5 separate regions of the Homo sapiens genome follow, and all the other regions are linked to region 4. The links come from fine-mapping of genetic effects on gene expression. A gene starts in region 4. Each other region holds a variant in brackets. All regions are shown on one strand. Distances are from middle to middle. Region 1 has its middle 16 kb from the start of CAPN10. Region 2 has its middle 24 kb from the start of GPR35. Region 3 holds the start of LOC285191 (a long non-coding RNA gene). Region 4 holds the start of GPR35 (G protein-coupled receptor 35). Region 5 overlaps CAPN10 (calpain 10).

Region 1 (6,501 bases), 23 kb before region 4:
AACGGTGCAGAAGACAGTTCCAGACATGGGTGGGGAGGGCTGTCACTAAGCCCTTTTGTTTTAGAGACAGGGTCTTGCTCTGTTGCTCAGGCTGGAGTGCAGTGGCATGATCATAGCTCACTGCAGCCTCGACCTTCTGGGCTCAGGTGATCCTCCCTCTTCAGCCTCCCAGGTGGGTAGGAAAACAGGCGCACACTCCATGCCTGGTTAGTTTTTTCAAGTTTTGAATGCTTAGGGGTCTTAGTATGTGGTTGCCTAGGCTGGCCTCAGTGATCCTCCTGCCTTGGTCTCCCAAAGCACTAAGATTGCAGGCATGACCGCCAACCCCAGCTCTAATCCCTTTTAAATTCCATTCGCTTCCTGAGTCCCTTTGTGCCTGGGGAGACCCCGTGTATTGGTCCTTTTTCACATTGCTGTAAACAACTCTGAGACTGGTAATTTATAAAGAAAAGAGGTTTGATTGCCTCAGTTCCGAAGACTGTACAGGAAGCATGGCTGGGGAGGCCTCAGGAAACTTAGAATCATGGCGGAGGGAAAGCAGGCAGTCTGCAGGTGTCTGGAGAAGGAGGAAGAGAGCGAAGGGGAGGTGCTGTGCACTTTTAAATGACCAGATCTTAGGAGAACTCACTATCACCAAAACAGCAAGGGGGATATCCGCTCCCATGATCCAATCATCTCCCACCAGGCTCCTCCAACACTGGGGATTATAATTCGACATGAGATTTGGGCAGGAACACAAATTCAAACCATAGCACCCAGTGAGCCTGATTTGGGCCTTGCTGCCGGATCACGACCATCTCTGGAGTCCTGGTGTCTGTTCCCACTGGGACCTGTGCCGCTGTCCCCCTCTCCACGCCCTGGCCACGCCAAGCCACCCTCCTGACTCACCCACAGGAAGCTGCCCTGGCCCTGGAGCCTGCCCCGTGAGCCCCTCTGCTTGCTGGTTCAATGGCCCTCCAGCAGCAGTGGCTGTGGCAGCTGGGTTCTCGGCATCTTCAGACACGGATTCTTGAGCAGCAGGATGGGGCTCCATCTCCCTGCGTGCAGAGCCTGCCACAGATCTCCCTCATCCACTGGCTTCTGTGCTGACTTCGGATGAAGCCAGTGGTGCCGCCTATTGGGGTACAGCAACTCAGGGCGAACAGTGAGGGGCGGCTCACCAAAGAAATACCCCGCAGGGCAGTGCCCAAGCCAGAGGCTTGAGCTGGGTCGGAGCTGCCCTAGATCCCTGGGTTTGTGGGCGGACAGGTCCTGTGCAGGGCGCCTGATGGTGCAGGTTGAGGTGGGACAGTTGGGGTCAAGGTATTTCTCAGGCACAGTGCCTATGAAGGGAAGACAGTTGCAGGGACTGTGTCCATGTCAGGATAGACTGGTGGGGACCCCGTGAAGAGTTCTGGAGCAAACCCTGCCTGCAGGGCCCCACCTGGGCTGGCCAGGCCCTTATGTTGAGCATCCCTTCCCCCAGGCCCTCAGGAGCCACTGTCCCCGAGGCAGGCCCTGAAGGTGGCGGCCACACCCTCCTGCTGGGCAGCTCTGCCCAAAGGCCACAGCCAGGACCTGCTTCCCGCGTCCCAGGCTACTGCCTGAGAGGAGGCCTCGAAAGCGCAGGGTTCCGTGACTTTAGAGGCCATGGTTGGCACCCATCATCGCCCCAGTGTAGATTGGCTCCACTCGACCTGGCTGCTTTGGCCATTTGGTCTACCAGCTGGAACCATGTTCCTGGGTGTGGAAAACGCTCCCTCCGAAGCCTGCGGAGAGCCCTGAGGCCTTGTGCTTCCTTCTGATGGGAGGTTCCAGATGCAGTTGGAGGGGATGTCTGGCAGGGCTCTAACCCCCAGCCAACCTAAACATTTCTGGTGCAGAAGGCCCCGGCCTGGTGTTGTTTGTCCCTGGCTGCCTCCTGCTCTGACACCATCAGCATCCTGTTGCCAAGGTCATGGATCAGTGCGGTGCTCTTCAGGGTGTCCGGCCAGCTGGGGTCTCTGTCCTGTATTCCGGCAGAGGCCCCAGGAGAAACAGCAAATGCCTTTGTCCATTCCATACAAATTTCATATAAATGTGAGCAGCTTCTGATCTTCCGTGGCGTATTCGTCCAGTTGATGGCCAACCCTGGGTACCTGGACCTCCAGGACCTGCTGCACTGGGCTGCCCCTCGGCTGTGTGTGCACTCGCCACGTGGCCCTCCAGGAATCCCATCCCACGGGGCCACACTGAACCAAATGGAGAGAGCAGGGCCACCACCCTCTCTCCGCATGCCACGGCTGCTCTGGGACCCGGGCAGGAGGGGACAGTCTTGGCCTTCCAGTGTCCCTCTTGGCCTTCCCACGGCCATCTCTACCCCAAGGATGCAGCAGAGATATCGGTCGCTCCCCAGGTGTCAATCCCAGTCACAGGCTCAGAGACCGGGACATGGCCCCGGGTGGGTCTGTAGGCCCTGTGGGCTCATGTGAGCTGGTCCTGGGCAGGACTCCATTATTAACTGCCTGTGATGTGTCCCACTGTCATGGAGCCCTGGTGACTCTTGGGGACCAGCATCAGCTTGGGGCCTGTGTGCTCAGTGGCTCCCAGATGCCTGGATATTCTCTTCCTGGTGCACATAGTCCCCGGGGAGGTCCTTGTCATGCACACTTGCTGATGTGGGGAGTGTCCTTCATCTTGCAGGCCTGGCCACCTCTTCAGTCAGCAGATACCTGGGCTGAAAACCGACTCGGGCAGTGTGGGCCCAACTGGGGCTCTATCGGAGTGACCACCCTCAGCCCTCCTGGACCCCTCTGCCGGCTCCACCTGAGCGCTGCCCTCGCTGGCAGCCCTGCCTTGCTCTGCTGCCATTCCGTAAGCCCTGCAGGCAGGCCCCTTGGCGCCCTTCAGCCGTGTTCATGATTGTCTCCTGGCCTCTGCTGTTTAGAGGTCTAATGCCCTCCGCCCCCGGCGAGCCAAACCCAGTGATGGTGGTTCCTGCCACCAGCTTCCTGTGGCACCGCTGCCACTCCCGCCAGGCTCCTGGGGCACCGCCACCACTCCCGCCAGGCTCCTGGGGCACCGCCGGCCACTCCCGCCAGGCTCCTGGGGCACCGCCGCCCACTCCCTCCAGGCTCCTGGGGCACCGCCGCCACTCCCGCCAGGCTCCTGGGGCACCGCCGCCACTCCTGCCAGCCTCCTGCGGCACAGCTGCCACTCCCTATTAACCAGCATGGCACAGGTGAGCGGTGTGACCTTGGTCTTCCCAGGGAACCAGTGCTTGGCAGCTCACACCACACACGCCTACGCCTACCCTCCACCAGCCACAGCAGTTGTGGCATCTCTACCCTGCCCAGCAAAAGTGGAAGTGTTGCCTGTGCCGCTAGGAACCTCCAGGTTTGCTCCACCTCCAGGGGCCTTGCCAGGGTGTCAAACCTGTGTCTCGGGACACTGCTGTTAGGTCTCCAGCTTCCCTATCAGGCGCCTCAGCACCCAGTCCTACCAGTGCTCCCGCCTCCCGTCCCCAGCTGGCTGGGCCTGCAGCCCCCTCCTGTGCCCCGAGCTGGCCGGGCCCGCAGCCCACTCCCTGGTCACTGGATGTTGCTGACACTTCACTCGGTCAGAGCCCTAGCACCCAAGGGGGGCCAGGGCCTGACGGGGGTGGAG[C/T]GAGGGGTGGGCCGCGTCTGTGCAGGCTCAGAAGCTTCCTAAGAGGCTGGAGAGTGGAACCTTCAGGCACCACGCACTGCCTCCTCCCTGCCCACGGTCCTGGTTTCTCCAGATGGGGCCTTGGCCTTGGCTAGGTGTTGATCAGGAGCTGGGAGTGCTGCGCCCCGCCCAACTTCTCCAAACTCCAGCCAGGGCACCTCAGTGAGGCCTCAGCCACCTGCGCCTTATTTGCTTCCTCCTTGGAGGCCCTCGTGTCTGTTCATTCATCAAACAGCAGCTGGGGCCCCCAGCAGACCCCCTTCCCCAACTTTCCCACTGGACACTGGAACCAGTTTCACAACTGGACTGGACAGGACGACCACCTTGTGCCAGGCGCCAGCTATCTCCCCTGACCAGTGATGGGTCCTCATTGCCCGTGGGCCGTGAGTGACCCAGTTCCAAATCCCAAATTAGTGACTCTCTTCTCCAATGGGGGTTGGATTCTCCAGAAGCAGAGGCAGACATAGAATTTGGGTGCAAGGTATTTCGGAGGGAAGGTGGAAGAGGTGGGGTTGGTGAGGGAGAAGCCTGGAGTGTCGGTGGCCGGGGTGCCCCCACCTGGCTGAAACGCCTGGTCTTTGTGCCCTGCCTGGCTCAGCCTCCCCAGGCAGACTACCCCATGGCATCCCTGGACAAGGCTGCCCCCAAGAACGCTGCCCACAGCCCAGCCATGGGCCTTCCCTTGGGGCTACCGCCCCGGCTCACACCTGCTGGCCAGCGTATTTACTCCTTGCTGGCTGCACCCTCTCAGCAGTGGCTGTGTAGACCATAACCCTGGGAACACCTGCGGGGAGAAGCGCCCTTGGCCTGGCGGCTTGGGGGAGACACCTGGGGTGTCAGGAGGGAAGGAAGGCAAGCAGGGGTGAGGCACTGTGGGACTTTTCCTGCTTTCTGGGCCAGTGGCCACAGGCCACCCAGTGACATTTCTCTCTCAGCGTCTGCTGGGGTGGACTCTGCAGCGGCTGCAGCCAGCCTGGATCGGCTCCTCGCACAGCTCTGCTTGAGGGTGAAGGCCATCTAGAAACCCTCAGTCCCCTCTCAGCCTCAGAGCTGATAGCGCTGCCTGACCATCAGCAAGCTTGTAATCAGCACCACCTCCAGCATGCCTGCTCCTGGATCTCCGTGAGGCTCCCCTGCCTGTGTCACCCAGGGGCCTCTAGGGGTGCTCTGGAGCTGGGAGCCACTGTCCAGCACTTCCTGCCCTCTCCGGCCTCTCTTGGCTGTCTGCCAAGCAGTCACTCAGTCTCCTATTGACCACTCGTTTTGCCGCAAGGCTGCTGGTTTACGTGAAAATAGAGAAAGCCAAAGAGTTTCCTCACCCCTGTAAGATTTACTGGCTCTTCTGGCATTGCACCTGCCTGAGTTCCTTGGTGGGGCCCCTCTTTGAGTTCCTTTGGGCTGCTGTAACAAAGCACCATAGCCTGGGCAGCTCGTAAACAGTGGAAATGCGTTGCTCTTTGTTCTGGAGGCTGCAAGTCCAAGATTGAGGCACTGGAAGACCTGGTGCCTGGTGAGGACCTGCTTCCTGGTCCAGAGACAGCACCTTCTCTCTGTGTCCTGATGTGGTGGAAGGGCAAAGGAACTCCCTGGGGCCCGTTTTATGTGGGCACTCATCCCATTCGTGACGCCTCTGCCTTCATGACCTCATCACCTACCAGAGGTCCCCACCTTTTCATTCCTCACCTTGGGGATGAGGACTTCAGTATGTGAATTTCGGGGACATAAATGTGTCATCTATAGAAGGGCCCATCTCTTACACAAATGCTGGGTCCCCAGTGGCCTGTGTCCTAGCAAATGAGAGCCACCCTGAAAAATAAAATCCTGTCTCCCCAACGCCAGCCCTGGCAAGGCACCCAGAACTCTCCGGAATGCTTGAAGGCAGGGCCTGGCCTTTCCATGGGGTCCAGGGCTGTGGGGTCCCTGGCGGTACTGTGGGCCTGCAGAGTGGGGCATGTGGGCTGAAGACCGTCTCCCCACCATGGTGGGAAGGGACAAAGGGTGGCCCTGGCAGATCCGGACGGGCAGGACTGGGTGTGTCCCATGAGAGCACCTCCTTCCTGGCCTTTCCTGTGGACTTTGTCCCACACCACCTGCCTGGGTTCCTTCCTTTAGTCACTTCCAGCTCCAGGCACAGCAGTTGGTGACTCCTTGGTGGGAGCCGTGTCCCACCCGGTCCTGATACTGCCGTCTTCTCTTTCACAGTCCTCCAGGCTTGGGCCAGCCTTGGGGGCAGCAGAGCTTCTGGGGTGAGTGTCGAGATCCTGTGTCCTGAGAGCGGTAGTCAGGGAGAGGGCTGGTCGGGGCAGGGCTGCCCGGGCAGGACACAGGATGCGGCCGGCCAGGCTGGGGCCAAGGTGTTCAGACCTGGACTTTGGGCTCGTGCTTTCTTCATGGTTGCGCCTTGCTCGCTGTCCCTTGGAGTCTTCATTTGGTTTTGCTTTTTTTGTTTGTTTGTTTTCACCTAATTTTTGCCAGACTTAAGCTAGTTTTGCTGCCTTTTGAAACTAGTGGAAGAATCATTTTATTCCTGGGGATAATTTGGGGCCTTTTGATCCCAACGTGAAGCCCTGCACATGGCTGCTTCATCAGGGGAAGGGTCTTTTCTGCTTTGGAGGAAAGGCTTTGGCAGGCAGGCTGACCTGGGAGTCTCCGGAGCTCTCGGCTCTCTGTAGCATCCTGGGGAGCTCAGACCATGGCTGCAGGGCTCTGGCCATAGCTTGCAGGCCATCTGGTTAGTGCTGCCCCCCAAACCCGGCCATTCCTCTCTAGTCCCCAGCAGGTATAGCCAGTGTCCACATAGACAGCACTGCCTCAGATCTGGGCTGGGACCACAACACT
Region 2 (6,501 bases), 24 kb after region 4:
TTGTGCCCCCTTCTGCCAGGGCAGCTGCAAGTAGACAGAGAACACACACCAGTGATGTCAGAGCTGCCCTTTGTCGAACTTCTGCTTTTTCCCAAGGTCTCCTGCAGAAGGTTGTCCATAGCTGGACTGGAGCTGTGCAGCTGGCTCCTTTGCAGCAGGATGCAACACGGAATCTTTTCACCAGACACCCGCGGGGTGGGCGCTCACCAGAAACAAAACCGCCCTGGTGCTTGCTGGGCCACGAGGCCGGGGGTCTGCGTTGGCGGCCGGCAGCCTCTTCTGTAAAGGGCCGGTCGGTGAACGTCTCCAGCCCCCTCAGCGAGGAGACCACGCTGTCGGCGGAGGGTGAAGGCAGCCGCAGACAGCGGAGGATGACACGGACAAAGGCCAGGCTGAGCTCCCGTGACCCTGTTTACAGAAATAGGCAGTGGCCCATCTGGTTGTAGTTTGAGACCCCGGCTCTGTGTGTCCCAACCCAGGAGGGGCTGCCTTGGAGGCTCTTCCCGGCTGCCCTGCATGAGCTGTAGTGTTCATGGAAGCGCGGGAAGAATCTTTGGCCAAAGCCCCGGCTCCCCCTTGGCTCCAGGAAGAGGCAGCCGGAGCCCTGCGCGTGTCCCTGACACCTCGGACCAGGGAGTGGAGGAGGGAGAGTGGCTGGGCTTCCAGGGCAGAAGCAGCACCCCCAGAAGAGGTGGCCCATGAGGAGCACGGGGGGCTTTGGGGTGCGTGGTTCCTCTCGGAGCCAGCGGCCCCTGGTCCCGAGCGAGTGTCCTCTGAGCGGAGGCTCGGGCCCCTGCCCTGGGCGCACTCAATGCCCCGCCCGCTGGTACCCTGAGCAGAGCAGCTGCCGGTGGCGGCGCGGGGCCTCCTGTCACACCCCCTCTGCATGAGCTGGGCTTCGTTGATGGAGCTGGAAGCTTCGCAGTAGCGGAATTTGTTCGTACAGGACCAAGCCCAGCTTTTCTAAGGGCTGGGGTGAAAATAGGAGGGCAATTTAAGTGCCGTTCGAGTTGTGGAAAGGATTAGCTGCTGAGCGTCAGGCAGCAGGCTCCGCGTACGGTCCTGGGCAAGGCCAGCAACGCAGCAGGGGCAGGAAGCTCCGGGCCGGGAACAAACAGGACACGCGCTCTGGCATCTCGGGGGGAAGTCGGCCTGGAATGGGGCAATAGGGGGGTTGGGATGAACTGGAAGGCAGAGAGGGGCTCTGAATTACTGGCGGTGAAAGCCCTGTGTCCGCCCCCTCAGAGGCAAGCATCCCTGTAGGACCATCTGGGGTCCTTGTGAAGCAGGCCTGTGCCCCCACAGGTGATGTGACTTTCGTCTCTGCTAGTGACAAGCTCTGACAGCGCTTGAAGACTGGAGGGAAGTGGACATTGGCGACTGAGTCCAAGTCACACAGCAGCCCCACTGACGCAGCTTTGAGAGCCGTGGCTGCCTGTGCCCCTGCACACGCTGGAGTCTCCAGGCCAGTGCCCACTCTGCCCTGAAGGAAGCAGAATTGTCAGCTCCAGCTGTCACGGGTGTGGCCAGGCAGTGGCTTGGGGCAGAGGTGGCCAGAGAGGGGGTGGGGGTGACAGTTTAACCTCTGAGGTCCTTTCCACACCCAAGACCAGACATAGGAAGCGGGAGGTGAAGGCCACATAACAGGGAGGGTTGTCAGGGATCCTGGAAAGTCTTTGTCACTGTTGTTTTGCCTGGGGCAGGACAGGCTGAAGAGGGGCAGGTGTGACCTGTGAACTCTGCTCAGGGCCCCTGGGCACCTGTTGTGTTAAGGTTAGGGGGGCCTCCCAGCAGAACATCCCAGGGAGATTCACTGGAGGAGAACGGGCCCCACGCCCTTGGGGTCGCAACTGAGTTCAGGGTCCCTGCTGGATGTCCAGTGGCCTGTCCCAACTCTAGGCACCCCCTAAAGCATGCTCTGGGACACCCTGGTCCTGAGAGATGATAGGGTGAGCGGCCTGGGAGAGGAGAGGCACTTTGGGGAAACAAATCTGGGCAGCTGGTTTGCCTGGGGAAGACAGTGAATGGGGCTGGCTTCCAGAGGTACTCAGAAGCCGGTACTGTGGCACCAGGTTTAAGAAAAGACAAGCTTTGCTGTGGGTCAGCAACAAGGAGACAGGATGCAGCTCACATCCATCTCCCCTTCCTGGCCTTAAGGCAGTGCCGTCATTAGGAAAGGTCTGGGGTGGGTTCTGGGATTAGCGGGTGATTGCCGGAGGGAAAGGGGAGGTCTGAAATGTCCCCTGGGCATGTGCAGCTGTGTCTTCGTGCCTCTGCAGGGTCACATGTGCTGATTCAGGGGCAGTGAGTATGAACGTGAGGTGGAAATTTGGGCCGTGATGTCAGCAAGCTGCTGCCCACTCCAGCCGGCCCTTTGGGTCCCCAGGATCTCAGGCAGTTTTATTCTCACAAGGAGGGAATTTCCAGCACGCTGCTGCTGTTCTTACCTGCCGTCATGTGAGCTCAGGAATCCCCGCTGTCAGTCACCGGTCTTTTTAACCCTTCGGGGCACGGTGTCACCTCCCCTCCCCGGCCCCAGCTGCTTCTCCTCCAGAGCTGGATTCAGGACTGAAGGAGGGAGGGAGGCAGCACCGAGGCCAGGTCTCCCACAGGCAATCCCCAGCACCCGCGATGGATGGACGAGGGAAGGATGTTTTGTGGAAACGGTATTTCCCAAACATTCCTAAAAATCAAGTTTTAGTGAGTTGAACATAACTGGTCTTCTAACTACTGTATATTCATCTCTGGGTCCATAGAAGAGAACAGTGTTTCTGCATCTCCCCAGATGTGAGACGGCTCCTATAAAACCCTCACCGAACTTCCCTGGTGCAGGGTCTTAAAAGGCGGCCACACCCAAATAATGTCCTTCCCTTGTCAGAACAGAAGGAAAGGAAACAGTGCCCCCAGGAAATTCACTTCCAAATGAGCTTCGTGTAGAAATCACTACCCCAAGAACTAGAATTCCGTCCAGCTTCAATAGGACCAATTGTGTAATCAACTCACCACCACAGTGGAACCAAAGGAGAGGGCAGGAC[A/G]GGCTGAAGAGGGGCGGGTTTGACCCCCGTACTCTGCTTAGGGCCCCCAGGCCCCTGTTGTGTTAAGATTAGGATGGCCTCCGAGCAGAACATCCCAGGAAGATTAACTGGAGGAGAAAGAGGCCCCCAGCTGCTTCTCCTCCATGTGAGGAAGATACATATTAGCTCCAACAGGAGGTCCAATATTAGCTCACAAGAGAGGGAAAATGGGTTTCTGACTCACTGAAACTTGCGATTTGGGAAAAAGATCAATGAGAGGGCAGGGGATGAAGGACCTCTGGTTCCTGGATGAAGAGACTTATTAAATAACAATGACACAAATATGCTTCTTGCAGTATTCGGAAATCAAATAATGTGGAAATGGTTTACTAAGATTCACATTTACATAATGTACATTTATAAAACACTACCCTAAAAATTACATTAGGTCTCCATTTGAGATATTGTGTAACCATTTCATAATAACAAAAAAAAAAATAAAAGAGAAAAACATGGAAATTATTTTAGAAGACAAAGTTCTTGCTGTGTTTCTGGATAACTTTATTACACTAATTAACAACAACAAGATAATGTAATTACACTTCCCACTAGTGGGAGGGCATGAAAGCCCTTAATCACTGGGAGTCATGTTTGAGGAACCTGCAGGACATTATAGAAGAATTATAATCTGTTAGATTTCCACTTAAGTCGCTGAATGATCACTCAATAGCCACAAAACTAACAGAGAAAAAAATCAGCATCGCTTTAGTAGAGAGCAAAGCGTCTTGCGGTGGTTCTGGGTCTTTGGAAGTGGGCTCACCGGAAAGTGGGGTCACTCGGAGGCGAGACACTTCTGCTGTCAGGCTGTGTGGACAGCTCTTGGTGTAGGCACATTTCTCTGCTCTTCAGTGGAGGAGATTCTGGGCCAGGGCACCCTCACAGGGGAAGACTCCTAGCAGTGTCTTCCTCCCTTTCTGGAATCTGGAAAAGGACAGAGTCCTCTTCCTAGGAGCTGCACCCCAGAACCCTTAGGACCCTCTAATATGTGGCAAGGGGATGAGGAGAGGATGGAGCTGGGTCAGCAGCACCCTTTCCTGTGGGAGGGTTGGATCAAGGCAGCCAAACTGTAGGTGGTTCCGGGAACACAGGATCCACAGCCTGAGTTCTGGTGCCTGGCCTCTGGGGTGGGCCCACGTGAGGCTCTGGCTCCTGGGCCTGGGATGTGTGGTCCACCCTGGGCCCTGGAACCCAGACCTCACCTGCCACAGCCAGGTGCTCCTGCTCCTCAGGCTTCCATCACCGCGAGGGGCCTCTGGCAGATGCACCCCATGCAGCATCAGGGACATGAGGATGCTCTGGGAATCCTAAACTCCTTCTTCCATAATTTTTATCTCACACGTTGTGCGGTAAAGAATTTAACCTTATCCAAAAAGATGTCTAGCCCTTCCCTTGGCTTCTGGAAGGTCATGTCTAAGCCCTTAGAATGTCATGACTGATAGGAGTGTCTTTGTTTACCTTTGTTTGCCTTGGATAATGCCAGATAGTCTAACAAGGTGATTTAGGGTGGTGGCGGGCCACACTTGATAGTATTTAGGTGGGGGCTAACCACCAGAAAGACCGACAATGTGATTTAGGGTAGGGGCTTTTGGTCACACATCTCAACCTCCTGAGGGCTGGAGTCTAAGGTCAACTATGTGAGCAATCAGTCAGTCAACCAATCAATCAACCATGCCTACATATTGGAGCCCCAGTAAAAACTCTGGGCAGAGAGCATCAAGTGAGCCTCCCCAGCTGGCCGTGCTGCAGGTGTGTCACCACACGTACATGCCAGGAGAGCAAAACTGGCCTGACCACACAGGGAGAGGACAACAGAAGCCTCTTGTTCTCCTGGATTCTGCCCTGTGTGCAGCTTCCTTGGCTGACTTGAAACTGTGTCCTTCTTCTGTGATAAACTGTAACCACACCTATAACAGCTTTCGGTGAGTTTTATGAGTCTTTCTATCAAATTACAGAACCTGAGGGTGGTGTGGGGTTCCTGGAACTTGTAATTGGTGTCAGAAGTGAGAGTGCTCTTGAGGACTGTTTTCTCTGTCGTCACATTTGGCTAAAGCTCTTGGAGTTGGAGTTGGAATTGGAAGTGAAATTCACTAGAATGACCCTGACTCACTGAAACGTGTGGTTTGGGAAAAGGATCAATGAGAGGGCAGGGGATGAAGGACCTCTGATTTCTGGATGGCCATGGGTCACGTGTGGTATGGAGCTGCAGCCCTGCTGTGGTCAGTTGCAGGAGGTAAAAGTTTCCAACAGAATTTGGAAATGATGGATCCAGATCCCCAGGAACTGGCTGGCCGGATGAATAAGGAAATACAAAGTAACAAAAACCAAGCTACATATGCAATCTCTTGGTTATTGTGTTCCCTAAAAGCTAAAACAAAAGTTAAGAGAGGGTGAAAGTAAAAGAGAGATCCTTCATCCCCTGCCCTCTCATTGCTCCTTTTTCCATACCACATTTTTTAGCGAGTCAGGGACATTCTAGTGAATTCCACTTTCAGCTGCAGGAATTTTATCAAACTGTAAAGGCAGAGAAAACAGTCCTCAAGACCACTCTCATTTCTGACAATTACAATGATAGGCTATTACCACGGAGACACAACAGTAGGCTATTAACTACTAACAGCCCGCTGTTGACCCGAAGCCTTACTGATAACATAAATAATTAACACTTATTTGGTATGTTATAGGTATTATAAATTGTATTCTTCCAATAAAGTAAGCTAGAGAAAATAAACTATTATTAAGAAAATCATAAAGAGGGGAAAATACATTTACAGTACTGTACTGTATTTATCAATATCATTAAGTTTTCTGTCATCTGTTTACAAGATGAATTGTCTCTCTGAAATGGCACAACCGCACCTGCAGACCTCAGTACGTATCCAACAATTCAACTTTTTTCTTGTAATGTCATGACTTTTCTCTGCTTCTTGGGCACTTCCAGCATCACTAGTGGCACTTCATATGGGTCCACTGTGAGTTATTGTTTCTGTAAAAGCTGAAATGAAAGCAAGAGAGAGGTTCTGAGCCTGAGCCAATGGGTAGTGAGGCCGAGGTGGTTGCCTTGGGGCCATGACCGATGGGAAGGTTAGAGGGAAAGGTAAGGAAGATGTTGGGCTGAATCCTGACATTGCACCAATCCTGGGTTCTGGGAGGTCCAAGCTATAGTCGCTGGCCTCAGGGCCAAAGGAAAAAGTTGTGTGGAAACAACAGATTGTGGGGAAATTCAGACTGCTTTGCAAAAGAATGAGGAAAGTCAGGTGGGAGAGTGAAGGAGCCCATCCCAGCAGGTGAACATCCTTCAACAGTTATTAAGAAATGGAAAGAACATGGCCGGGCTCAGTGGCTCATGCCTGTAATCCCAGCACTTTGGGAGGCTGAGGTGGGAGGACCGCTTGAGGCCAGGAGTTTGAGACCAGCCTGGTTACATAGC
Region 3 (6,403 bases), 62 kb after region 4:
AGAATATGAAAACAACGTGAAACACACAAAAGTTAAGTGTGAGCCCGTGCACTGTGACAGGTGTCAGCAGCGTGAGTCTCGCCAGCGTCAGGAGCTGGAACGTCTTCATCATCCCCGAGTCCTCTGGTCCTCCCTGCCCTTCCGCAGCGGGAGGGTCCACTCTTGTGGGTTCCCAGTCCTCCCTGAACTTCCCCAGAGGGAGGGTCCACTCTTGTGGGTTCCTGGTCCTCCCTGAACTTCCCCAGCAGGAGGGTCCACTCTCGTGGGTTCCCGGTCCTCCCCGCCCTTCCCCAGCGGGAGGGTCCACTCTTGTGGGTTATGTGATTCTAGCTTCCCGCTTTCTGTCCGGAGCCTGCAGAGGAATGGGACCACGAGCTACACGTGGGTTGGACCTGCCTGTTTTGAGAGAGGGCCCTGTCCCTGAGGGTTCATATCCCTTGAACATGGTTGAGAGTTTTGTTCCTTTTCATTGCTGACTTGAAGCCATGTCATGAAGAGCCACAGCTTGGCCGTTTTTCTGATGATGCCCATGTGGGTGGATTTTAGTTCTTACTACTATGAATAAAGCTGCTGTTAGCATTTTGGTCTATTCTTTCTGTAAACGCAGACTTTTATGTCTTTTGGGTAAATTCCTAAAATGCCCCGGGTGAGCTATGTCCACTGAACAAATCCCACATCTATAAATTTGGAAAGAAGACTTTATTTCCTATAAAGGGGTAGGGCCTTCAGGGTGGCCGTCCTGACACCCTGGGCACCTCAGCCTCTGGCAGAGCCCAGGCCGGGCACCTGGAAGGAGGGGGTTGGGGCAGGAGCTTCATGCTGAACAGGTCGGCTAAGGACACACACTCCATGGGTTGCTGGAGGAGCCGTGAACATTCAGGAAGGGGTCCTCACTCATGCATACTGAACAAACATGCATGTGACATGCGTCTCAAGTTTCCTTGGGGGTGGACACGTGATATCTAAATGTGTTCCTGTGAGGCCCTTGCCTGGAAAGGTGAAGCAGCAACACCAAGGCACTCGTTGCACGGCCCCTGAAAACCAGCCAGAACCAGTCCCTGCTGGGTGGTCCCCAGTCAGAATTACAGAAATCAGCCTCTTGGCCAATCAAACTTAGGGCTGGTGGCACAGAAGAGTGGGGCTGTGTGTCAGCATCTGGAGGGGGTGAGCTGCACCTGAGTGAGTGTGGCTTTCCTAGTGGCCAGCGCTGGTTTAGCTGCTAGAGAAAAAGAACCCTCCTGGCCGGCAGCCCCTGGTTTCTGCTTTTCAGTGTCTTGTGCGTGACTCCACCCCTGCCAGGCAGGGCCTCAGGTCTTGTTGATCATTTGCTGTCTTATCACCACAAGGAACCTGTTTTGTCAGTCTCCTCTTTATGTTCACCTTCATGCTGGTGAGTGTGGTGTCCCAACCACAGACGGAGGGGCTGTCACGCGGCGGGTCCCACCTCCCACTCTGTCATGGCGGGATTTTTGTCATGTTTTTCAGATTTCTCTGGAATCCCCTTGGCCAAGAAGGGTCCATTCAGCTTGTTGGTGCGGGAGCTCAGGATTTCATTTTTAGTTCTCACATGGCAGGTGAGTGAAAACGTTATAAGGGACTATCCAAACCTTTCCCGAAGTGGCTGTAGTATCTTAACTCTCACCAGTCGTGTGTGACAGTTTTGGTGTCTTTAAAAGTCGGTGGTGTCAAGATTTCACAACTACCTCTTCTGCTGATTGTGTGGTTCTATCTGTTCGTGGCTTAAACTTGCATTTCCCTCATGACAAAAAGTGTGAAACCATCAGTCATGAACTGTCTGTCCATTCCAATCTCTTCTGTTCATTTTTAAAGTGGGGCTGTGTATCTTTTTATTGATTTATGATCATTCTTTCTATATTCTGGATACAAGATTTTTGTGTGGGATTTGTTTTGCAGTATCTCCCCAGACTTCCTGGTCATTTTCTTTGTAGTGTCTTTTGATAACTAGAGCATTTTCCTTCGGATAAAGCCAAATTGATTATTTTTAAATGTGCTTGTCACTGCTTTTTCCTCCCTGCCAGGAAGTGTTTGTGCACTCTCAGGTCACACAAGAGATGGTAATTTGTCAGTGAGCTGAGGAAGGCAGATCTGGCCTCAGCTATGAGGGTGGGTAGCACCCAGCCCATTGCAGACCCAGACTCCGGAGGTTCCTCTGTCTTCTTGGGCTGGGGCGTCCATCTCCTCCTGCCCGCAGACACAGGAGTTTCTGGGTCCCAGGCCTTGCGCTCTGGGACTGACACCAGCGGTTTGGGCTTGGACTGAATGACGCCACCCGCTGTTCGGGTTCACTGGCTTAGGGACAGCGGTTTGTGGGACTTCTCAGCCTCCGTGATCAAGGAGCCGATTCCTGTAATAAATCTCCTCCTAAACGTATCGCCCAGCAGCTCTGTTTCTCTGGAGAACCCTGACTCACATATGGGGGCCTAGAGGTTTGGTTGTAGCAGGCCCCAGGCCCTGTTCCAGCACCTGGCAGTACCCCCAGCTGATGGGCCCCAGGTGGGGAGGGACAGCCGGCCTGAGGGAGGTGCCTCCTGGGCCCCACCGTGGGCTCCCGTGCAGACAGGCAGGGTGGGGAGCAAGGACAAGGCTGTCCCCTCCTCTGGCCTCCGTCTACAGGTGGGACTTCTTTCCAGCCCTTTCTGTGGGTGGGGGGTGCACACGGGCAGGCCAGCCCCAGGCGCCCTCAGGACCGCACCCTAGGCCTGCCCTGGGGGGAGTGGGGATGGGGCTGGGGCCTCACCTTGCTCAGGACCCAACCCTGGTGCAGCTCCACTCCTGGCTTTTCGCCTGCAGGACAGAGGGGCCTGGAGTGGCCTGGCCCTGCCGTGGGCAGCATGGCGTGGGCATGCAGGTGAGGCCTGCCTGAGGTGCCCAACCCCCTTTCTGCCAGCTGGGGCTTCCAGGTTCAGTGGTGTGTCTTCCTGTCTGGCATTTCAGAGAAGGGCTCTGCAGATGTGGGGGCTGGCTGTGAGGACACAGGGAGCCTGGGAAAAGGGTGGGAGAAGGGTCCCTGTGGCCACAGGCCACCCGAGGAGGGGCAGGGCCAGGCTCCTGTGGAAGCTGTTGCGGGCCCAGGGGTCTCTTTGTCCAGGCGGGAAAGGCTTGGAGCACAAGGCACAGGCCCTTCACCCCTCAGCCAGCCAAAGCCTTGAGGGCTGGTCACCCCCCGACGAGCTCAGTCCCCTCCAACGGTGCTGCCCAATACTGGGCCTCCCACACCGCGTCCCTCCCCATCTCCACCCTGGGATCCTCAGACACCCACACACACAGGCAAGGGGAGAAGCCAGGGCACCCCTAGGCTTGGCAGAGTGCAGGCTCCCTGCTATGTTGGCTTTGCTTGGTCCCTCCAGGGGAACCAGGAGCCTGTGGGTGAAGGAAGCTGACCCTGGAAGGGCCTGGGGACGTCTCTGGACCAGCCTCACCCTGGCTTTGATCTTTGTTCCAGGGCGCAGACTGACCACTCTGTTCCCACACCTGGCTCAAGGTGGGT[C/G]GAGGGCCTTCCCAGCCTTCTCAGAGCTAACCCAGAGGAGTGCACAGGACAGGTAGGCAGAGGGTTCAGGGGCCACCTTCCAATGGGGTGAGGCTGAGGAGAGGGTGCTGTGAGCTGAGCAAGGACCCCACTCCATTTCAGCTCGTCTCCCCCGAGAGCCACAGGGAGTGCTGGACCCGCCTGAGCGGGGGGCATATGGGGCTCAGCACAGCACTGTGGGGCCTGGATGAGAAGCCGCTGGTCTCTTCTGCCCCTCCCTGACATTGAGGACTGGAACCTTGGGGAGCCTTGGGTGAGGTCGCCTCCCAGGAAGTCCTGAGCTGAGACATCGCGGGCCCATTTTGAGGTGGCTGTGAGGGGTACAGGTGAGTGTACTTGGGGTTCCTTCAAGGCCAGGCCCAGCAGGTCACCTGCAGAAGGCCTTGGGCAGGTGCCCCCCACCCCGTCCTGGAACACCATTCTTCCCCATCGCCCCAGAGGACCAGGCCCAGGCAAGGCTGGGAATGCTTAGCCGACCTGCTCAGCATGAAGCTCCTGCCCCAACCCCCTCCTTCCAGGTGCCCGGCCTGGGCTCTGCCAGAGGCTGAGGTGCCCAGGGTGTCAGGACGGCCACCCTGAAGGCCCTACCCCTTTATAGGAAATAAAGTCTTCTTTCCAAATTTATAGATGTGGGATTTGTTCAGTGGACATAGCTCACCCGGGGCATTTTAGGAATTTACCCAAAAGACATAAAAGTCTGCGTTTACAGAAAGAATAGACCAAAATGCTAACAGCAGCTTTATTCATAGTAGTAAGAACTAAAATCCACCCACATGGGCATCATCAGAAAAACGGCCAAGCTGTGGCTCTTCATGACATGGCTTCAAGTCAGCAATGAAAAGGAACAAAATTCTCAACCATGTTCAAGGGACATGAACCCCAGGGACAGGGCCCTCTCTCAAAACAGGCAGGTCCAACCCACGTGTAGCTCGTGGTCCCATTCCTCTGCAGGCTCCGGACAGAAAGCGGGAAGCTAGAATCACATAACCCACAAGAGTGGACCCTCCCGCTGGGGAAGGGCGGGGAGGACCGGGAACCCACGAGAGTGGACCCTCCTGCTGGGGAAGTTCAGGGAGGACCAGGAACCCACAAGAGTGGACCCTCCCTCTGGGGAAGTTCAGGGAGGACTGGGAACCCACAAGAGTGGACCCTCCCGCTGCGGAAGGGCAGGGAGGACCAGAGGACTCGGGGATGATGAAGACGTTCCAGCTCCTGACGCTGGCGAGACTCACGCTGCTGACACCTGTCACAGTGCACGGGCTCACACTTAACTTTTGTGTGTTTCACGTTGTTTTCATATTCTGGTGTAAGTTTGTTTTATTTCTCTAGAAAGAAGCAAGGGCTGTGAATGGTGATTAAACGTTCCTTCTCAGGTTTGCCTGTGCGTGGGGTAGAGGTGGACCACGCAGACCCTCCCTGCTGTGAGCTCCGTGGAGGGTCAATGCAGATGCAGGGAGACTGTGGGGCCCGGTATCCGCGACGCTGGACAAGGGGGTTCCCGCTCTGGAAGGAGGAGTCAAGGTCTCCAGTGGTGTCGGATTAGAATATGAGGAATCCGTCTGAGCTCATTCTCCACAGGATCCCACGAGGGAAAGCCTGGCTTTTCCCTGTGCAGATGCCAGGCCTCTACAGGTTCCAGAAGGTTCCTCTGCTCCTCTGAGAGGGCAGGGCACTTGCACAGGGAACAGGCAGCCGAAGGCAGCCACAGCCCTACTGGAACCAGGGTTTCTCTGCCTCCTGGGAAGAGGTCAGTGGATGGGTTGGGGAGGGGGACAGGCGGCCTTCCTGTGGGAGTCGAAGAGCCTGGGGCCTCCCCTCCTTGGAGGCGACCAGACACCTTCCCTAACTGGAGGAAATTCTGAACCCCAGACCTGGAAAGTTCAAAGCTGAAATAAAATCGCCCCTTGTTTTGCGAGCTGCTGCCTCCTATGTGCCCTCAGGCAGGTCCATTCCCTCCTGGTCTCAGTCTCCCCAGCTGTGCCAGGGGGACGCCAGGTGGGACCCAACTGGGTTTCCAAAAACAAAAGGAAATTTAAGTCTCAGAGAAAGGGGAGCTTTGGGCCAGGTTGGGGGAAGGGCCTCGGGTGCTGGAGTGAGTCCTGGGGGAGAAGGAAAGGGCTGCGGGCGGGACATCCAGAAAGTCCCACATGCTGTACCATATGGCCATGGCTGGTGTCCCAGTGCTTGGGTGCAGACTCACTGGACAGGATCCATGCTGCAGGGTGACAGACGGCCCATCGCAGGGCCCACAGGGCTCATGTCCCATCCCCTCGGGGTCCGGAGCTCTGGATGGTCCCAGCCCAGCTATCTCCCACTGCAGACGCCCAGGCTCAGCGCCTTCTCCACGCAGCTGTGGGTAGCTGGCCCCTCTGCAGGAAATTCAAGTGAATGGCGATGGCACTTTCGGTTTTCATCTCTGGAAAGCGCTTTCGGGGCGGGAAGGTGGGAGGGACGTTGATGTGAGGCGTGGTCCTGAGTTCTCCTGAGGGCAGGTGAGGGCAGTACAGGGCAGGGAATGTGGGGCTGGGGCAAGGGCTGCTGCCAACTCTTGACCAGAGGGGACACAGAGCAGGTGGAGGAGGGTCTCACCCAGACCAGACCCCAGGCAGGTCAACAAGCTTGGGGGTCCCTGCTGAGGTGGGGACACAGTGGAGGTGCAGGGAGCCAAGAATGAGAGGACCTTCCCATAGGCAGGGACACAGCCCACGTGCAGGGGGCCTGGCCTAGCTGGGGACACAGCCAGGTGCAGGGAGCAGAGGGCACTCACTCAAGGGAAGACATCTACAGGTGCAGGCAGGAGGGAGCTTCACCTAGGCTGGGTCAAAGAACAGGTGCAGGGGCCATGAGGGGCCTCCC
Region 4 (5,095 bases):
CCGACAGGGCAGGAAGCAGATAGAGTCCCACAAGCACAAGCCCAGTGCGCAGAAAGGGTTACTTAAAAAATAAGTTCTGTGATAAAATCAAACAGGGTGAAGGGCTGGAAACAGGTCATGAGGGCGCAAACAGGTCGTGAGGGCGCAAACAGGTCGTGAGGGCGCAAACAGGTCGTGAGGGCGCAAACAGGTCGTGAGGGCGCAAACAGGTCGTGAGGGCGCAAACAGATCGTGAGGGCGCAAACAGGTCGTGAGGGCGCAAACAGGTCGTGAGGGTGCAAACAGGTCGTGAGGGCGCAAACAGGTCGTGAGGGTGCAAACAGGTCGTGAGGGTGCAGCTTTGGGGAGAGAGGGGCCCTGGGGGTGAGCGGGGAGCTAGGAGAGAAACAGCGCTCTGGAGGGGCCCGGGCAAGGCCTGCCTGAGTGGGAGGGGGCAGAGCACGAGGGCCCAGGCTCCAGGCTGGGTGGGACTGCCCTGAAGTGCCTGCGGAGACAGCCAAGGGGCAGATGGAGAGAGGTAGGGGGTGGGCTGGGGACAGCGTTTCCTGTACACAGGTGGAACCTGGTGGCAAGGGGCCCTTCCCAGAGACAGTCAGAGTCTCTAAATGTCCAGTTTCTTCCCCAAGTCCACACAGCCCAGAAGAATCCGCTGGGACCATGTGGCCCTGCCCAGTGGGGCTTCCCTTCCAGTGTGTGAGGAGCACAGGTGCCAGGCCACGTCAGGGAGGCCAGGCCTGGTGGGGACGGGGTGCCCCAGGCCACTGCTGGGGAGGAGTGATGCCCAGCAGAGGGGGCACGGTGGAGTTCATGGCTGGCCTGGTGGTGGGGGGGGTGGGGGAGCTCTGCAGGGCCCTGGCTCTGGTGGGCTGGGTAGGCCTGCTTGGGGCACCATCTGATCTGCCAGAGGTGGAAGGAGCACTCCTGGGAGATGCCGTGCCCTGCACCTCCAGTCCCTGCTTGACGGCGGCCGGGCTTGGACTGATCAGGTGCCGTGCCTTCTGCTGACCCCAGAGGCCAGACCCTGTGGCCAGAGTGAGGGATGGATGAAATCCCAAATCTGAGCCTCCTGCCCGAGGATGAGGCCCCTCTCCAATGAACATCATGGCCCATGGAGACTGGGCAGGGAACCCAAGGGCGCACACTGGGGACTGGGCCTGGAGGGACAGCCGGGGAAGCAGGAGGAAGGGCAGGAAGGACAGCAGGAGGAAGCAGGAAGAAAGGGACAGGAACCAGGCCCGGGATGACAGCAGAGAAGGACCAATGCCCAGCCAGGGCTTCCTCACGTGCCTCTGGGTAGAGAGCCCTGGTCTGGCTCAGGAGGCCCAGGCACTGGTCTCAGACCTGCCACCACCTGTGTGACGCTGGGCCAAGCGCTTCCCTTCCCTGGGCGTCCGTTTCCACCGCTGTAAAGTGGGGAGGGGTGAAACTGAAGCTCTCCCCAGCCTATCCCAGCCGTTGAGGAGGGAGAGGCTGTGGTCAGGGGCTGTGGGGCCCACGTTGAGGAGACGAGGCTCCTGCCCTCAGGGTGGACAGGGCCCAGGAAGGGGGTGCTCTGCACCATGGGGGCGCAGCCTGGGCCTACGGGCTCCCCCACCATGAGCTCAGAAGGAAGATGTCCGCTGAGGAGTTGGGGGCCAGGGAGAATATTCTAGACCAGATAGGGGTGGTCTGGGTAGGCTTCTGAGGGGGTGGGCTTGGAGGAGGGGCCGGTGGCCAAGTCGGGGGGAAGCAGGGGAGGAGCCAGCCTGCCTGCGTGTGCCTCTCACCTGTGTGCATTGGCGTGTGCATGTGTGTGTGCATGTGTGCCAGCGTGTGTGTGTGTATTGGAAGGCGCCCACGGAGCGTGTCTGCATGAACCAGGATGAGTGTGCGTGCTGCACCCTGTCTTGGGGCTGGGCATGAGGCGCTGGGGAGGGCGAGCTGACCGCAGACCCTGGGAGGGCTGGGCCCTGGGAAGGTTTCCGAGATGACAGGGCAGAAGTGGGCTGGGGAGGAGGAAGGCTCCGTGGGCGGGGCTGGAGCGTCTCTGGTTTTGCTGTCTGTCTCTCACGCTGTTTCCAGAACAAATGTGTGCCCTCAGCAAGGATGCTGGCTCTTCAGAGGTGTCAGCACAGGCAGCCGGCACCCCACTTCCCTCCCAGAAATCCCCCACGCCCTCTAGCTGGGGCTGGTGCAGGAGCAGTGGGGAACTCCTGTTACCCCTGACCTGCTGCCGTCAGTCAGCCGCCCGCCCCCCCACCTTAAGGAGGGGCAGAGTCAGGGACCAGCCCTGAGGGGTGGCTCACCCCAGCTTCACTTCCCCCAGCCCTTCTCAGACAGCCACTGTGCAGGCTTTGGCAGCGGGGGTCACACACTCCACCCGGGAGGCCAAAGCTGCCTGCAGGTCAGTGCCGCCCACTGCCCTAGGGGCCTCCCAGCGGGGCAGGGGCATGGTGGGGGTCTCAGAGTGGGGTGAGGCTGTGATGGGGTCTCAGAGCAGGGTGAGGCTATGATGGGGTCTCAGAGTGGGGTGAGGCTGTGACGGGGGTTCTCAGAGCGAGGTGAGGCTGTGACAGGGTCTCAGAGCGGGGTGAGGCTGTGATGGGGGTCTCAGAGCAGGGTGAGGCTGTGATGGGGTCTCAGAGTGGGGTGAGGCTGTGATGGGTGTCTCAGAGTGGGGTGAGGCTGTGATGGGTGTCTCAGAGTGGGGTGAGGCTGTGATGGGGGTCTCAGAGTGGGGTGAGGCTCTGATGGGGTCTCAGAGTGGGGTGAGGCTGTGATGGGTTCTCAGAGCAGGGTGAGGCTGTGATGGGTTCTCAGAGCAGGGTGAGGCTGTGATGGGGTCTCAGAGTGGGGTGAGGCTGTGATGGGGTCTCAGAGTGGGGTGAGGCTGTGATGGGGGTCTCAGAGTGGGGTGAGGCTGTGACGGGGTCTCAGAGCGGGGTGAGGCTGTGATGGGGGTCTCAGAGCGGGGTGAGGCTGTGATGGGGGTCTCAGAGCGGGGTGAGGCTGTGATGGGGTCTCAGAGCGGGGTGAGGCTGTGACGGGGTCTCAGAGTGGGGTGAGGCTGTGATGGGGGTCTCAGAGTGGGGTGAGGCTGTGATGGGGGTCTCAGAGCGGGGTGAGGCTGTGATGGGGTCTCAGAGCGGGGTGAGGCTGTGACGGGGTCTCAGAGTGGGGTGAGGCTGTGACGGGGTCTCAGAGTGGGGTGAGGCTCTGATGGGGTCTCAGAGTGGGGTGAGGCTGTGATGGGGTCTCAGAGTGGGGTGAGGCTGTGATGGGGAGTCTCAGTGAGGTGAGGCTGTGTTGGGGTCTCAGGTGGGCTGAGGCTGTTGGGGTCTCAGGGGTGGCTGAGGCTGATGAAGACTTGGAGCCTGTGTCTGGGTAGCAGCTTGTTGGAGTGTGGGATGTGACATTTAAAAACAAGAATGAAGAATACCCCGTGCTGTGGCCCCGAGGTGAGCAGCTACTTTGGTGAACTCGTGTCACTCACAGCCCCATCCTGGGTCCTGGGGTGTGGTGTGCTGTGTGGGGCCCAGGCCCAGTGGGGTCACAGGTACGGGGGACTCTGGTGCCTGGGCCACAGGGATCTGCACCTCACTGCGTGCCCCCACGTCTTCAGCAGTGGTTGGGGCCTGTGGTCTCAATCCCAGGCCAGCCAGGCACTCTGGGGTCTGGGCGGGTCCCGGGTCCAGACAGGGGGAAGGGCTGGGGAGGGGCTCTGGTGTGGCTGGATCGCCCGTCTATGGCCAGGTTTCTCTCCTGGATCACTCAGTGCAGAATCAAAGGGCACTTTTCTGCTTTTGTGTGCAGAAGCCGAGGGTGACCTTGTCATCAGAAGGGGAAGCGGGGCCTCAGAGGCGTGCTGCTGGCTCCAATCCCCAAAGCCTCCTGGGCAGGAAGTGGAAGGGCCCCATCCCCACGGTCCCCGGCAGCGGGAGCTCCCTGAGGCTGATGGTGCTGGTGTCTGTCGAGGAAGACAGGCCTGAGGAGCTGAGGCGGGAGGCCAGCTACGGTCCACGGCCTGGACACAGATTCCTGTGCGGGACTGGGGCAGTAGGTGGGCATCTGTGCTGGCCATGTTAGCTCCCAGGGGCCCCATGCCATCTGGGCTAAAGCCTGGGCCTTGATTTCCTGAACTTTTCTGGGAGGCACTCCACGGGCGAGACAAGGACCCATGAACAGGGCACTTCTTCGAAGCCTACGTGCACCTCGAAACTCTTGCAACATTTGCATTTTTCTCCCTAATAGTTCAGTGTTTGTTTTATTATAAACAGGAAAATTTAAATGTTGTAGTTAGAGTTTTTTTCTTCTTCTTAGAGATGGGGTTTCACTCTGTCTCCTAAGGCTGGAGTGCAGTGGTGGGATCATAGCTCACTTCAGCCTCAACCTCCTGGGCTCAAGCCGTCTTCCTGCCTCAGCCTCCCGAGTAGCACGCATCACCAGCCCAGCTAATTTTCTGTCTTTTTTTTTTTTTTTTTTTTTTTTTTTGTAGAGACGGGGTCTCCCTGTGATGCCCAGGTTGTTCTTAAACTTCTGGCCTCAAGTCATCCTCCTGTCTCAGCCTCCCAAAGTGTTGGGATTACAGGCATGAGCCACCGTGCCTGCCTGCAGTTAAACATTCCCCCACAAAATACTGGGCCACACCGAGGCTAGTATGAAAGTTGCAGCCCTGGGTATGTGTGACCTGAGAGCCCCTTGGCAGCCATGGGGAGCGATGGGGGAAGCTGGGGCAATGGGAAGGGGTCTAGGCACACGAGCCCTCGGGTCCTCACCTCCCACGAGGCAGGGTCCCAGGCTGCCTCTACTCAAGGTGGGGCAGCAAAAGAATCGCCCTCTAGCTGTGCAGACCCCCTCCCCCTCCAGGTCTGCACACCGCCCAAGGCTGGCCCTGGACTTCTGGTGGATTCAAGTACTCAGGTGGGGAGAGTAGGAGGCCAGTCGCACGGAGCCCTCCCCAACGCACAGTGCCTGCCCAGCTCAGGTGCCTCTGAGGTGTAGATTCTGAGCAGGTTCTGGGATCTCCTGGCCCCCAGCGGGGGCTGCCACAGGAGTATAGGCCCAACAGGAAGGGAAGATCCCAGCGATTGGTTCCAGTGGGTTCTGGGGATGTCCT
Region 5 (6,487 bases), 34 kb before region 4:
TAGAGGCATTCTTCTGGGAGGCGGAGCATATTAGATGGTTTACAGTCCACAGCCTGGGAGAGTGTCTCGGGGGAGTATCAGTAAAGAAGAAGGGGGCCTTGGGGCTGAGCCTTGAGGAACCCTAACATTTCTTGGGGTCAGGCAGGTGCCCTGACAGATAGACTTGAGAAGCAGCAGGCAGTGAGGGAGAGGACACCCGGGGAGCATGCGGCCTCACAGAAGCTGAGTGGGGACCACCTCAGGGGCAGCAGATGGCTGTTCTGCTGTTGTGAATGCTGCTGAGTAGTTGGGGAAGAGAGTTGGGACCAAGAGAAGCCCAGTGGGTTTGATAACATAGAGGTGACAGCGACATTGATCGAGGCAGTTTAGGGGCCATGATTGGCTCAGAAGCTAGAGGAGCCTGTGTGGAGAGTGAATGGGAAGCAGGTAGTGGGCATGGCAGCTCTTTCAAGAGCTGTAATGAAGAGAAGCCTGAAGGAGACTATGGTGCTGAGAGATAATGTCTTAAAGAACATGGGGGTGGGATTCTGCCCGGGGAGCTGGAAGGGAAGGAGTTGTGAGAGGAGCCCAGGCTCTGAGGGCAGGAGAGAGGGTCAGGTCCAGAAGCAGGAGGCAAGGTCGAAGCTCAGAGGGGTGGGCAAGGGCAGTGTGGATGTTTTGAGTAGACGGGGAGAAAGGGGAAGGTATATGATAGTTAGGGGGTGTGGGAAATGGAGCCTGCTAGAGAAACAGATTTCCAGCAGGATGGAGGACACATTTGAGATTTACCAGCATGAGTAAAAAGTGAAACTTTTCGAAGCCAACATTTAGCTGTTTTGAGAAGGAGCTTGCTAGAGTTTGGGATTTTTCCAGTAAGGAAGGAAGGCACCCCAGAATTAAGCTGGACAGAGGCATTTGAAGCCAGGAGCTGAAGGACACCCGCTGCAGGAAACCACCTTCCTGTCCCTTTTTGGGTAACACTGATGATCGGAAAAGCTCCACCCCAACTCCTGTCATCTAGAGCCTTGGGTTCTTAGTTTGAAGGGTTCCACAGCAGGCATGATCTAACTCTGGACAACTTTCTGTATCTCAGGAGATTTGTGCCACACCCCGGCTGTTTCCAGATGACCCACGGGAAGGGCAGGTGAAGCAGGGGCTGCTGGGGGATTGCTGGTTCCTGTGTGCCTGCGCCGCGCTGCAGAAGAGCAGGCACCTCCTGGACCAGGTGCGGGGCCCCTTCCCTGTGTTTGTCCTGGAGCCGGTTTCTTTTTGCGTTTCTCCAGCCTGCTGAGTACCAGGAGGCCTTGCGAAAGCAGAGCTGTGCCGCAGCCGGATCTCCTGCTGTGTTGGGGGAAGGCAGGAGAGTTCCAAGGCAGAGGCTGAGGACTGCACTCTGTCCCTCTGCTGCAGGGGGGGGTGCCTTGGCCTCGCCAGAAGGCTCCATCAGGGAGGTTCGCCCTGCTCTGTGCTCTCCTGACCCCCGGACTCCATGGAGTCAGATCACCACGTTTAGAATAAAGAGACAAATGTGCCAGCTCACAGGAGGACGGGGCTGGCTGGCAGCCTCTGCCTCAGATCTCTCCTCAGCTAGCTCGCTGGTTTTCTTACAGGTTTTGAATATAAGTTTGCAAAAAGTTATTAAACCTGTTTCTGTGGGTAGACAGATACTCTGGGAGGAGAAGGCCTTCTCAGGTTTTCCTTACCTGGGAGTGTTCACCGTTTTATGCTTGGCTTGTTGCTAAGTGTTGCTGATTAATGCAGCGGCGTCAACAGTGTGACCTCATTCAGAGTTTCACTCATGTCCCAGGCCCCATGGTAAGCGTGTCACAGTCACTGGCTTTCAGACACATGGTCTTACCAGCTTTGACTTTTTTTTTAAACGAGAGTGCTAAAATCACTGCCATTGTGTTTCTGGCCGTAAAGTGGCAGAGCCAGGACCGCACCAGGTGCCTGGTGCCCAGCCTGCACTCCCCCGATGCTGGGTCAGAATGCTTACCCCTGAAGGAGCCCTGCGGTGGACGCTGTGGGTGCAAGCAGCTGGCCCAGTGTCGGGGCGCCAGGCTCCCAGCAGCAGGAGGGGCTGCTGTTCCTGTGGTGACGTGTTGCTTGCAGCCAGCTCGGTCAAGAACTGGGTCACTCATGCCCTTGAATGTCACATTTGTTTTGGCTTCAGGTCAGATGCTTTTAGTGAGGGCAGCAGAGTGTGTCCCGGGATATGTGGCTCCCTCGGTGTGGTCCTCAAGTTTTGCAATGAGAGGTCTGTTAATTTCATGTGGGTGATGCAGCCCTGTGCAGGCGCCGACATCCAGGTGTGCCGAAGAGTTCTCTGCGACATCCAGGTGTGCCGTAGAGTTCTCTGCGACATCCAGGTGTGCCGTAGAGTTCTCTGCGACATCCAGGTGTGCCGTAGAGTTCTCTGCGACATCCAGGTGTGCGTTAGAGTTCTCTGCAGACCGCGGTGCCTGTGGAGCACTCAGCTGTGGCCACACCGCGGCCGGGACACTGGAGTAGCGCCGGGTGGTGCTTATATCACGCTCGCCTTTTGCTTCTCCCTGTGCATGGCAGGTCATTCCTCCGGGACAGCCGAGCTGGGCCGACCAGGAGTACCGGGGCTCCTTCACCTGTCGCATTTGGCAGTTTGGACGCTGGGTGGAGGTGACCACAGATGACCGCCTGCCGTGCCTTGCAGGGAGACTCTGTTTCTCCCGCTGCCAGAGGGAGGATGTGTTCTGGCTCCCCTTACTGGAAAAGGTCTACGCCAAGTGCGTGTGCTGGGGGCTGAAGGGCCTGGCCTGGGGCAAGTGGGAGCTGCCACTACCATGGGCTGCCCCAGGAGGGTCTCTGCTCACTCTGGGCTGCAGAGCCCCCTTCAGTTCTGAGGGTCTGGCAGCTCATTCTGTGAGTCAGGCTGACAGGCCAGGTGCAGAGATTCTTCTTTTGGGCCTGTGGATTGCCCACTCCCTGCTTTCCCTTCCCTTGTTCCAAAGCCCAGCGTGGAGTCGTTCTCCACAGAGAACATGTGTGCCGTCCTCCTTATTTTATCGGCCCCAGCAAGAAAGATGCTTCTTTATATTTGTTGTGGAGTGGTTGGGACAGGCAGACTCATTGTGTAGTCGTTGGGGAGGAATGAGGCTACCCCAGCATACCAACACTTGTGTATCACGGTGCTTGCTGGCTCAGGGGACCAGGACCCTCACCATGAGTCATAATTGAATAGCCTTCCCTCTTAGAATGCATTTGTCTTCTTGCCAAAGGCAACTGGACTGACAGGCAGGCAGGGAAGCTGGTGAACATGGGAAGGCTGGCTGGTGACATCAGTGCCCAGTGAGCCCTTCCATCCCAAGGGCTGTTTTAGGAAAAGCAGGGTTGGAGCTTGAGAGCCAAGGGATGTGGGCATCCATAGCTTCCACGCCTCCTGCCCTGCTCCTGTGCCCACACCGGATGCCAGAGAGTTTCTGTGTGTGGGCAGAGGACTGCAGGGCGCTCACGCTTGCTGTGAAGTAAGGCGTTTGAAGGTGAGGCTAAGCCTTGACTTGGTGAGGATGAGGAAGAAGGCAGAGGGGAGTAAAGAGGTGGGATTGAGGCAGCGGTTGGACGATTTGGGGTGCTACAGACCATGGGAATCAGAGAGGGGGCCATGCTCAATGCCAGAGGCTCACTCCCATGGTGATTGTGTCCCCTAGGGTCCATGGGTCCTACGAGCACCTGTGGGCCGGGCAGGTGGCGGATGCCCTGGTGGACCTGACCGGCGGCCTGGCAGAAAGATGGAACCTGAAGGGCGTAGCAGGAAGCGGAGGCCAGCAGGACAGGCCAGGCCGCTGGGAGCACAGGACTTGTCGGCAGCTGCTCCACCTGAAGGACCAGTGTCTGATCAGCTGCTGCGTGCTCAGCCCCAGAGCAGGTGAGGCACGTGGCCAGCATGGGAGGGCTGCAGCCAGCGTGCCCCCCACTGCCAGGCCTCAGGCACACTGTAGCTTTTTATGTGACTGGCTACACAGCCCTGTCAGGACTAAGTGGGAAGAAGTAAGCTTGTTCTCAAGGGTGGTGTCCTCAGTTTGTGACCTTCCCCTACTGTCCTCTTCCAGAGGGACGTGGCCCTTCTCTCCCCTGACCAGTCCTTTCCACTAGTGCGAGGCAGGAAGAGGTGGCACCGAGTCAAAGCCCACTGTCTGTGCCATCCCTGGCCCAGCTGGCAACCTGGCAAAATCAAAACCTGTTTTTTATTTTAGTGATAGATAACATTCGTTAAAAACAGTTTGTCTCCAAAAAATGAAAGGGGCCAGGTGTGGTGGCTCACACCTGTAATCCCAGAACTTTGGGAGGCTGAGGTGGGAGTATCGCTGGAGCCCAGGAGTTCAAGAGACCCGCCTGGGCAACATGGCAAGATCTCATCTCTACAAAAAATGAAG[G/GA]AAAAAAATCACTTAGATGGAACCACATGTGACTTTTGAGTGCGCTCTCAGTTTTCCATGAGCACGCACGGTTTACGTGTTCCCTTCCGCACCGCTTCTCACACTGCCACACACGCGCTGTCAAATGTTCGCCCCATGAGCGGGTTTGCCACAGTCTCTTAATCATTCCCCTGATGTTGGATATTAAGATCTCTCTGGTTTTATATAATTATAAGCAGTATCAATGAACATCTTTATCATTTTTTTCATACTTAGGATTATTTTAAAAATATGGGTTAAAGAATATGAATATCACAGTAAACTGAAACAAGTTGTCATAGGCCTTGGTCTGGGTCCCCCATAAGCAGACCCTGAGATGAGGTTCAGGAGCACGTTGAGAGGTTCAGAGAGCCTGGAGGGCGTGTACTCCCCGCCAGCCCCGCTGGGGTGCCAGGAAGGACGCTGGCCTCAGAGCCTCCCACCTGGGAGTGAGGGCGCTGGTCTGGTGGGCATTAGCTCGGGGAGCTGTTGGTTTTGGGTGCTCCAGGGTGGGGTAGCGCTAAGTCCTAGCACTTCAGGCTTTAGAGGAAGCCCCCAGGCAGAGAGAGATGGCAGCTGGCACTGACTGGAGGTGCATTGGAGCCTGCTGAGGTGGCAAGGGGCCGCGGCGTGGGCGAGACTGAAGTCCTTCCAGGAGACCCTCCTCTCTAGACCGTTGCCCCGCCACAGATGTGGCCTTCCTCTCTGTTTGGCTCTTTCTTTTCTATGCCCATCTGTCTCAAGGTCTCTGGCCAGGTGGAGCTGTTGCCCCCCTGGGCCTCCATGCCTCCAGTGGGCTTCTAGCCAGGGCACTATCTGAATGTCCTACCTCTAGCAGGCTTTGCCAAGAGAAACACTCTCTAGATTTCTGGCAGTTGCAGATGCATCTGTGCAGCATGTTTGAGAACTGGTGCTGTGCCAGGCATCGTGCACAGATGGGTACGGACGATGACTGAGGCCTAGAGAAGGGGATGACTTACCCAGCACCAGACCCGGATGGCAGCCGAGTCAGGCCCCGTGTGCTTGCTCCTGGAGATGCTCCTGAGCTGATGGGTCACAGCTGCTAAGAAAGGAGCTCTCGTGGTCCATGGGGATCTGGGGTCTCCCGTGTAGCCATAGTGGGGTGGGCTGGAGCATCTCCAGAGGAGGAGGCAGAGGCCTGTGTGTCCTTGTCAGTTTGGGACTCCATGGTGCCCTTCCTGCCTGTGCCTGCGCCATTCCTCATGCAGGTGCCCGGGAGCTGGGGGAGTTCCATGCCTTCATTGTCTCGGACCTGCGGGAGCTCCAGGGTCAGGCGGGCCAGTGCATCCTGCTGCTGCGGATCCAGAACCCCTGGGGCCGGCGGTGCTGGCAGGGGCTCTGGAGAGAGGGGTGAGTGCTGGGGCCTGGACCATGCTGCTGTCGGGAGGGGGGCCCAGTGCCAGTCTGGCCTGTGTCCTGGTCACCTTCAGCTGTCAGGACTGTACTTGGCTGTCTCCAGCAAGGCCCCTGAGTCCCTGCTCTCGTGACACCATGCTTGTCTTGGCTCCAGGCAATCCTTGTGAGGCCTGGGACCAAGGTGGCCATTGGGCCTGGGGTTTCAATAGGGCAGACATCATCACGGGCTCGGGCAGCAGTCCTGGGAAGACGCATCCAGAGGCGTGAAGTTCCTCTGGGAAAAGAGAGGGCTCCAGGGTGGCCGCTGCCCAGAAGGCCCTGTGCTGCAGAGCTGCTTCGGGTGTGGGAGGGGCTGCAGAGCTGGGGCACGGGGTTGCTGGCAGGAACTCAGGGCTCTCTGGGTCCCCTCCAGGCTTCCCCCCAGCCTGCCGGCAAGTTGACACTACCAGTTCTCGGGAGGGGCTTCTGCTGAGATGAGGTTTCTTCCAGGGGTGAAGGGTGGAGCCAGGTAGATGCAGCGGTAGCATCTGAGCTCCTGTCCCAGCTCCAGGAAGGGGAGTTCTGGGTGGAGGAGGAGGAGTTCCTCAGGGAGTTTGACGAGCTCACCGTTGGCTACCCGGTCACGGAGGCCGGCCACCTGCAGAGCCTCTACACAGGTAGTGCCCCGAGGGGCTGTGCTGGGCACGTGCTCTGCCTGCCGAAGT

Evidence for each region.
Region 1: its variant is fine-mapped to the expression of GPR35 in whole blood (TOPMed, PIP above 0.99). The same link has a PIP of 0.9 or more in T cells.
Region 2: its variant is fine-mapped to the expression of GPR35 in whole blood (INTERVAL, PIP above 0.99).
Region 3: its variant is fine-mapped to the expression of GPR35 in whole blood (GTEx, PIP 0.94).
Region 5: its variant is fine-mapped to the expression of GPR35 in spleen (GTEx, PIP 0.99).

The regions. Positions count from the first base shown.
Region 1 is chr2:240,599,662-240,606,162 of GRCh38, forward strand. It overlaps a transcript of GPR35 not described here. Among named protein-coding and RNA genes, the nearest start is that of CAPN10, 16 kb to the left of the region's middle. The variant C/T (reference allele first, on the strand shown) is at 3,625.
Region 2 is chr2:240,646,533-240,653,033 of GRCh38, forward strand. No RefSeq gene overlaps it. Among named protein-coding and RNA genes, the nearest start is that of GPR35, 24 kb to the left of the region's middle. The variant A/G (reference allele first, on the strand shown) is at 3,036.
Region 3 is chr2:240,684,953-240,691,355 of GRCh38, forward strand. It overlaps LOC285191 (a long non-coding RNA gene), which reads left to right and starts at 1,382. Exons shown (of 3, transcript NR_149021.1): 1 at 1,382-2,869; 2 at 3,464-3,560; 3 at 3,650-4,170. The variant C/G (reference allele first, on the strand shown) is at 3,509.
Region 4 is chr2:240,623,186-240,628,280 of GRCh38, forward strand. It overlaps GPR35 (G protein-coupled receptor 35), which reads left to right and starts at 2,295. Exons shown (of 2, transcript NM_005301.5): 1 at 2,295-2,383. RefSeq lists enhancers at 1,492-1,641, 2,249-2,755.
Region 5 is chr2:240,588,271-240,594,757 of GRCh38, forward strand. It overlaps CAPN10 (calpain 10), which reads left to right. Exons shown (of 12, transcript NM_023083.4): 2 at 1,073-1,204; 3 at 2,545-2,741; 4 at 3,663-3,880; 5 at 5,636-5,777; 6 at 6,273-6,439. Among named protein-coding and RNA genes, the nearest start is that of CAPN10, 4.8 kb to the left of the region's middle. The variant G/GA (reference allele first, on the strand shown) is at 4,389.